Regions from separate parts of the Homo sapiens genome. Here region 2 is linked to region 1. The links come from fine-mapping of genetic effects on gene expression. A gene starts in region 1. The other region holds a variant in brackets. All regions are shown on one strand. Distances are between the middles of the regions. Region 1 holds the start of YWHAG (tyrosine 3-monooxygenase/tryptophan 5-monooxygenase activation protein gamma). Region 2 overlaps SSC4D (scavenger receptor cysteine rich family member with 4 domains).

The links. PIP is the estimated chance that this variant, and not a neighbour inherited with it, causes the effect.
Region 2: its variant is the best candidate, but not a certain one, in a credible set for the expression of YWHAG in whole blood (TOPMed, PIP 0.54).

What each region holds. Positions count from the first base shown.
Region 1 is chr7:76,357,689-76,360,188 of GRCh38, reverse strand. It overlaps YWHAG (tyrosine 3-monooxygenase/tryptophan 5-monooxygenase activation protein gamma), which reads left to right and starts at 1,198. Exons shown (of 2, transcript NM_012479.4): 1 at 1,198-1,467. The coding sequence starts at 1,381. RefSeq lists silencers at 864-1,273, 1,594-1,793, 1,877-2,067 and an enhancer at 1,123-1,769.
Region 2 is chr7:76,397,961-76,400,972 of GRCh38, reverse strand. It overlaps SSC4D (scavenger receptor cysteine rich family member with 4 domains), which reads left to right. Exons shown (of 11, transcript NM_080744.2): 4 at 382-687; 5 at 2,176-2,253. It also overlaps a transcript of ZP3 not described here. Among named protein-coding and RNA genes, the nearest start is that of SSC4D, 10 kb to the left of the region's middle. The variant A/G (reference allele first, on the strand shown) is at 1,705.

The DNA of each region.
Region 1 (2,500 bases):
AGGCCTGCAGGCATGGTGGCTCACATCTGTAATCCCAGCACCTTGGGAGGCCGAGGCGTGAGGATCGCTTGAGCCCAGGAGTTCGAGACCAGCATGGGCAACAAAGCTAGACCCCCGTCTCTACAAAAAAGCAAAACAAAGCAAAAAAACCCATGCTATCTGCAAGCTATGTGGAATAATATGAACGAGAATATATCAGCGTGACCTCAGTAGGTATGTATGTCTTAGGAGGGGAGAGAAGGGCTGGACAACCAAGCCCTAGACGCAGCCCAGTTAGATGTGGAGTAGGCTCCTGGTAGCTGAACTCAATCTTTAGCACTCCACCCTGGAGAGGAAGAAGGGGTTCTCCAGGGTCAGCCAGCAGACAGCTGCATCCTTTCTGGAAATCAACCACTGTGGCCAGCCGGTATTTGTCGTTCGTCCATGTTTTCACCTATTCAGGCCCAAGAGCCTCAAGGTGGGGTGGGGGGTTTAATGGAAGCTCGTAGGGGGTGGAGGTGACAGTCCCCAGGGTCTGGCCCCTTAATTCGGCCATCCCGCGGGCAGGCACCACACTGAGAGTCTGGATCTACAATGGACGCGCCTCCTGTCCTTCCCCCACCACGACCTGCTACGTGATCTCGGAAACAGGGTCTAGGACTGAGGCCCCTGCCCCCTCCTCTCGTAATTTCCCGGAGAATATGGGGCGGGGCGGTGAATCAGCACTCGCAGGGACTGATGCAGCCCTGATCCCCGCCAGGGGTCCCCAGCGGCCTCGGGATTCGAAGCACCCCCCCCCGTCCTCCTGCGCCTGCGCGCTATGTCCGCTGGGAGTTGTAGTCTTGACCGCCCCTTTGTCCTTGGTCTCCTCAGCGCCTCAGTGCACTGCAGGTTACACTACAACTCCCAGGGGCCCATGCGTCCGAGGGCTGGCGGGGCGGGAGGCTCAAGGGGGAGGCGTAAGGGGGCGACTGGAGAAGCTGGGGTGAGGGAACTGGGGAGTGAAGTGAAAAAAGGGGAGAGTGGGGGCGCAGTGGGAAAGGACGGGGTGCCCGGAAGACGCGCAGTGAGCCCAGCTGGGGAGCGGGGAGTTCTAGCCGCGGCCGGGCTCGGGCGGGGCATGGGCGGGGCTTGCGGACGGGTGGGCGGGGCCTGCCTTCGTCATGCGGCGTGGGCGGGGCCGCAGGGGGTTGTCCGTCAGTGGCACGCACAGCAGCCGCAGCCGCCTCGCGCCCGGTCCCGCGGTCGCAGCTCCAGCCGCCTCCTCCGCGCAGCCGCCGCCTCAGCTGCTCGCTCTGTGGGTCGGTCCTCTCCGGCACTTGGGCTCCAGTCGCGCCCTCCAAGCCCTTCAGGCCGCCCCAGTGTCCTCCTCCTTCTCCGGCCAGACCCAGCCCCGCGAAGATGGTGGACCGCGAGCAACTGGTGCAGAAAGCCCGGCTGGCCGAGCAGGCGGAGCGCTACGACGACATGGCCGCGGCCATGAAGAACGTGAGTGTCTCCTCCCCTCCCCCGCCGCTCCCTGCCCCTCCGAAGACGCGGTCCTTGGCGTGGAAGGCCCGGGGCTTCGTCGCCCTGTCGCGATGGCGGGTTGACCGCCCCGTCTCGCTCACTGAGGGGGGCTGGGGAGGGTCCCGAGAGGCGACGGGAACCCGGGCTGTGACGCGGCCTCTTTTCGGAGTCCCCGTGGCCCCGCGGCGCTGCCATTCAGGCCCGGCGCGGGCGCGGGCCGGGGCGAGGTCCCGCGGGGCTGGACTTGGGAGCGGGGTCTCCGGCCCCCGCGGCTCTAGGGGTGCAGGGGACCCGAGCGGGGAGGCGTGCGCATCCTTTGTGCCCCACTTCCCCCCTCCTCCTAGCCTGGGCGTGGGGGCGGGGGACCGCATGGATGCGGTTCCTCTTTCTCTCCCTGGTGTCTGGGCGGCGCCTTTCCCATTCACTCAGCAGGTCTCCCGGTTTTCCACCTCCCCAGCCCCCCCAGAATCTTCCCCACTGTCTGTCCCGACACATCCCTGAGAATCTTCCCAGAAACATTGTATAGGGTCTCTTGAAAACCTGAGCTCCGTGGTGCAAAATCGAAACCACCTTGCTCACGTTTTTCTTAACAAAAGGCTCTTCTTTCTCCATTCGCCCAAAGCAAGTCCTCCGGCTTTTAGGAAGGGAGAACGTTTGTCTCGCTAGCGTTTTCATTGATCATTCTCAACATGTCATCTCCATTTTATTCCCTAATGTTTTTGTATTGAAAAGGGTAGGTATTGCCTGTAAAATTAAAAGGTGGTGAATGTAGCTGACTGGTTCGATTCGTGTGACATATGCCGTTTCTTTTTTGAATACAGGCACGCGTCTGTTGAAATTCCTATAAGTTGGGGGAAAAAATATTCTGTCTGATCTGATAGTGCAAACAAAGCCGTGGTGAGAGGCAGTATCAAGTCATTCCAGAAGATTCTGCATTTGTCATATTGCAGAGAGCCTAGACTGGGTGGAGGCTGGGAGGAGTTATTTTAAAGGGGAAAAAGTCTTTTTAAAA
Region 2 (3,012 bases), 41 kb before region 1:
TGTCCGCCAGGTACTCCAGCCTCAGACAGGGAACCACAGGAAGTGATGACTAACCAGCCCCCCTTGACTCTAGATGCCCCCATCTCAGGGGAGCTGTAGTCTCCCCATTTTCCAGAAGGGATTGATCCCAAGGTTCCCATGGCTTCATGGCAAAGCGGGTAACCTGGCTGGGTCCCGTAGTGCACGTCTGTGATCCTAGCGCTTTGGGAGGCCAAGGCAGGAGGATCACTTGAGCCCAGGAGTTTGAGACCAGCCTTGGCAACATAGTGAGACCCCGTCTCTACCAAAAAAAATAATAATAAAATAAAAGGACATCCTGGAGTGGGCATGCTGGAGGTTGGACTCAGTGACCCCCTGGTGCCAGCTCCACCCTCTTCACAGAGCTGAGGCTGGTGGGGGGCCCCAGCCGCTGCCGGGGCCGCCTGGAAGTCATGCACGGTGGCTCCTGGGGCAGCGTCTGTGATGACGACTGGGACGTGGTGGACGCCAACGTAGTGTGTCGCCAGCTGGGCTGTGGCCTGGCACTGCCCGTGCCACGGCCCCTTGCCTTTGGCCAAGGCCGAGGCCCCATCCTGCTGGACAACGTGGAGTGCCGCGGGCAGGAAGCTGCGCTGAGCGAGTGCGGCAGCCGCGGCTGGGGCGTCCACAATTGCTTTCACTACGAGGATGTGGCTGTCCTGTGTGATGGTGAGTGGAGCCCTGGGACCTGGAGGGACAGACAGACTGTGGCAGGCAGCAGGGCTGTAGGCTAGATAAATGAAGGGACTTCCCACAGGTAAGGCTGTTCCATGCAGATCAGGCCAGAGGCTACAATGCCTGGTGCCAGGGAAGAACCCCAGCCTGGGTCCCAGGGATTCTTCTGGGTCATTGCCTGACCCTGACCTTGGACCAAAAGAAAACCAGCACTACTGCTTCTATGTAAGGCTTTGATTGTCCCAGCAGAGCCCCTCTCCCTTTAAAAAAAATTTTTTTAGAGATTTTGGAGATGAGGTCTCACTGTTTGGTCCCGACCAGAGTGCAGTGGTGTGATCATAGCCCACTGCAGCCTCAAACTCCTGGGCTCAAGGGATTCTCCCGCCTCAGTAGCTGGAACTACAGGTCCAAGTCACCCCACTGGTTCCCCTCTCCTAGTTTTAAAACCAGACAATCAGCCGGGCATGGTGGTTTATGCCAGTAACTCCAGCACTTTGGGAGGCCAAGGTGGCAAGATTGCTTGAGCCCAGGAGTTTGAGACCATCTTGGGAACATAGTACCTTATCTCTACGAAAAATCAGAAAAATTAGCAAGGTGTTGGGGGCGGTCCCAGCTACTTGGGAGGCAGAGGAGGGAGGATCGCTGGAGTCTGGGGGGGTCAAGGCTGCAGTGAGCCGTGATTGTGACACTGCACTCCAGCCTGGGTGACAGAGCAAGATCCTGTCTCGAAAAACAAAGAAAAAAACGACTATTGGGGTCACACTGGCCATGCGCTCCACGTGGCATAGAGCTGCAGCGGAAACTGAGAGCAGTGCTTCTAGTTTTCAAGAAAATCAGGGGGTCTCATGAAAACACAGATTGAGGCCCAATCCCAGAGTTTCTGATTCTGCAGGTCTGGATGGGGCCTGAGAATCTGCATCGCTAACAGTTCCCAAGGGAGGTGAACTGCTTTAAGAACTGTGCTTCAGGCTGGGCACGGTGGCTCATGCCTGTAATTCCAGCACTTTGGGA[A/G]GCCGAGGCAGGTGTATCACCTGAGGTCAGGAGTTCAAGACCAGCCTGACCAACATGGTGAAACCCCATCTCTACTAAAAATACAAAAAATTAGCTGGGCATGGTGGCAGGCACCTGTAATCCCAGCTACTCAGGAGGCTGAGGCAGGCAAATTGCTTTAACCAGGGAGGCGGAGGTTGCAGCAAGCTGAGATTGCACCATTGCACTCCAGCCTGAGCGACAGAGCAAGACTCCATCTCAAAAAATAAAATAAAATAAAAAACAACAACAAAAACCGTGCTTTAGAGGAGTCCAGGACTCTGGTGTGGACCCTCTCCTCTCATACCCCAGTGTTCCTGGCTGTGACTCTTTGTGTGGCCAGAGGCTCTGGCGGCAAGCACCTTATGGGTCCATCCTCCTGCCCCTTAAACACCCCGTGGTGTGAGGATGGAGAACAGAAAGACCCCTGTATCCACTTCACTTCCTTTCCAGAATTCTTGCCAACGCAGCCCCCAACAAGGAAGATGTTAACCAGTAGAGCACCTCCTACGACACTGCCGAATGGAAAAAGTACGTAAGCATAATGTGGGCACCACCTGGGTTTTGGGAGAGGAGTCTCTCACACCCTACCCTAGGCAGTGGGAAGACAGGGATTACAAATTGAAGATGTAAAGTTAGAGAAAATGGCTGGGCATGGTGGCTCACACCTGTAATCCCAGCACTTTGGGAGGCCGAGGCCAGCGGATCACTTGAGGTTGGGAGCTCCAGACCAGACTGGCCAACATGGTGAAACCCTGTCTCTACAAAAAATACAAAAATTAGCCAGGCGTGGTGGCATATTCCTGTAGTCCCAGCTACTTGGGAGGCTGAGGCAGGGGGATCACTTGAACCCGGGAGGCAGAGGTTGCAGTAAGATCATGCCACTGTACTCTAGCCTGGGGGACACAGTGAGACCCTGTCTCAAAAAAAAAAAAAAAAAATAGAAAATGAATGGGCGGTGAGACTGGAGCTTAATCTCACAGGAAGGTCAGATGAGCCCAAGAATGATGATCATGACTAGAAGAAGAAAATGAAAAGTGCTCTAAAAGAGGGACAGTGAAAGAGGCAAAGAAGTCCAGAGGTGGAAGAGGGTCCCGTTCCTCAGGAGATCAGGGAAGGCTTCCTGGAGGAAGAGGTGTGGGGCTGTATCTTGAGGATGTCATTTGCAGTAGATGAGAAGGCAGCACGTCCCAGGCTGCCAGGAGACAGGGAGCAGGGTAGGGGGGTTGGTTTTAGGCAGAAATGATACTATGATCCCACAAGCTACCCCCAGTCTGGACCAAGGAGGCG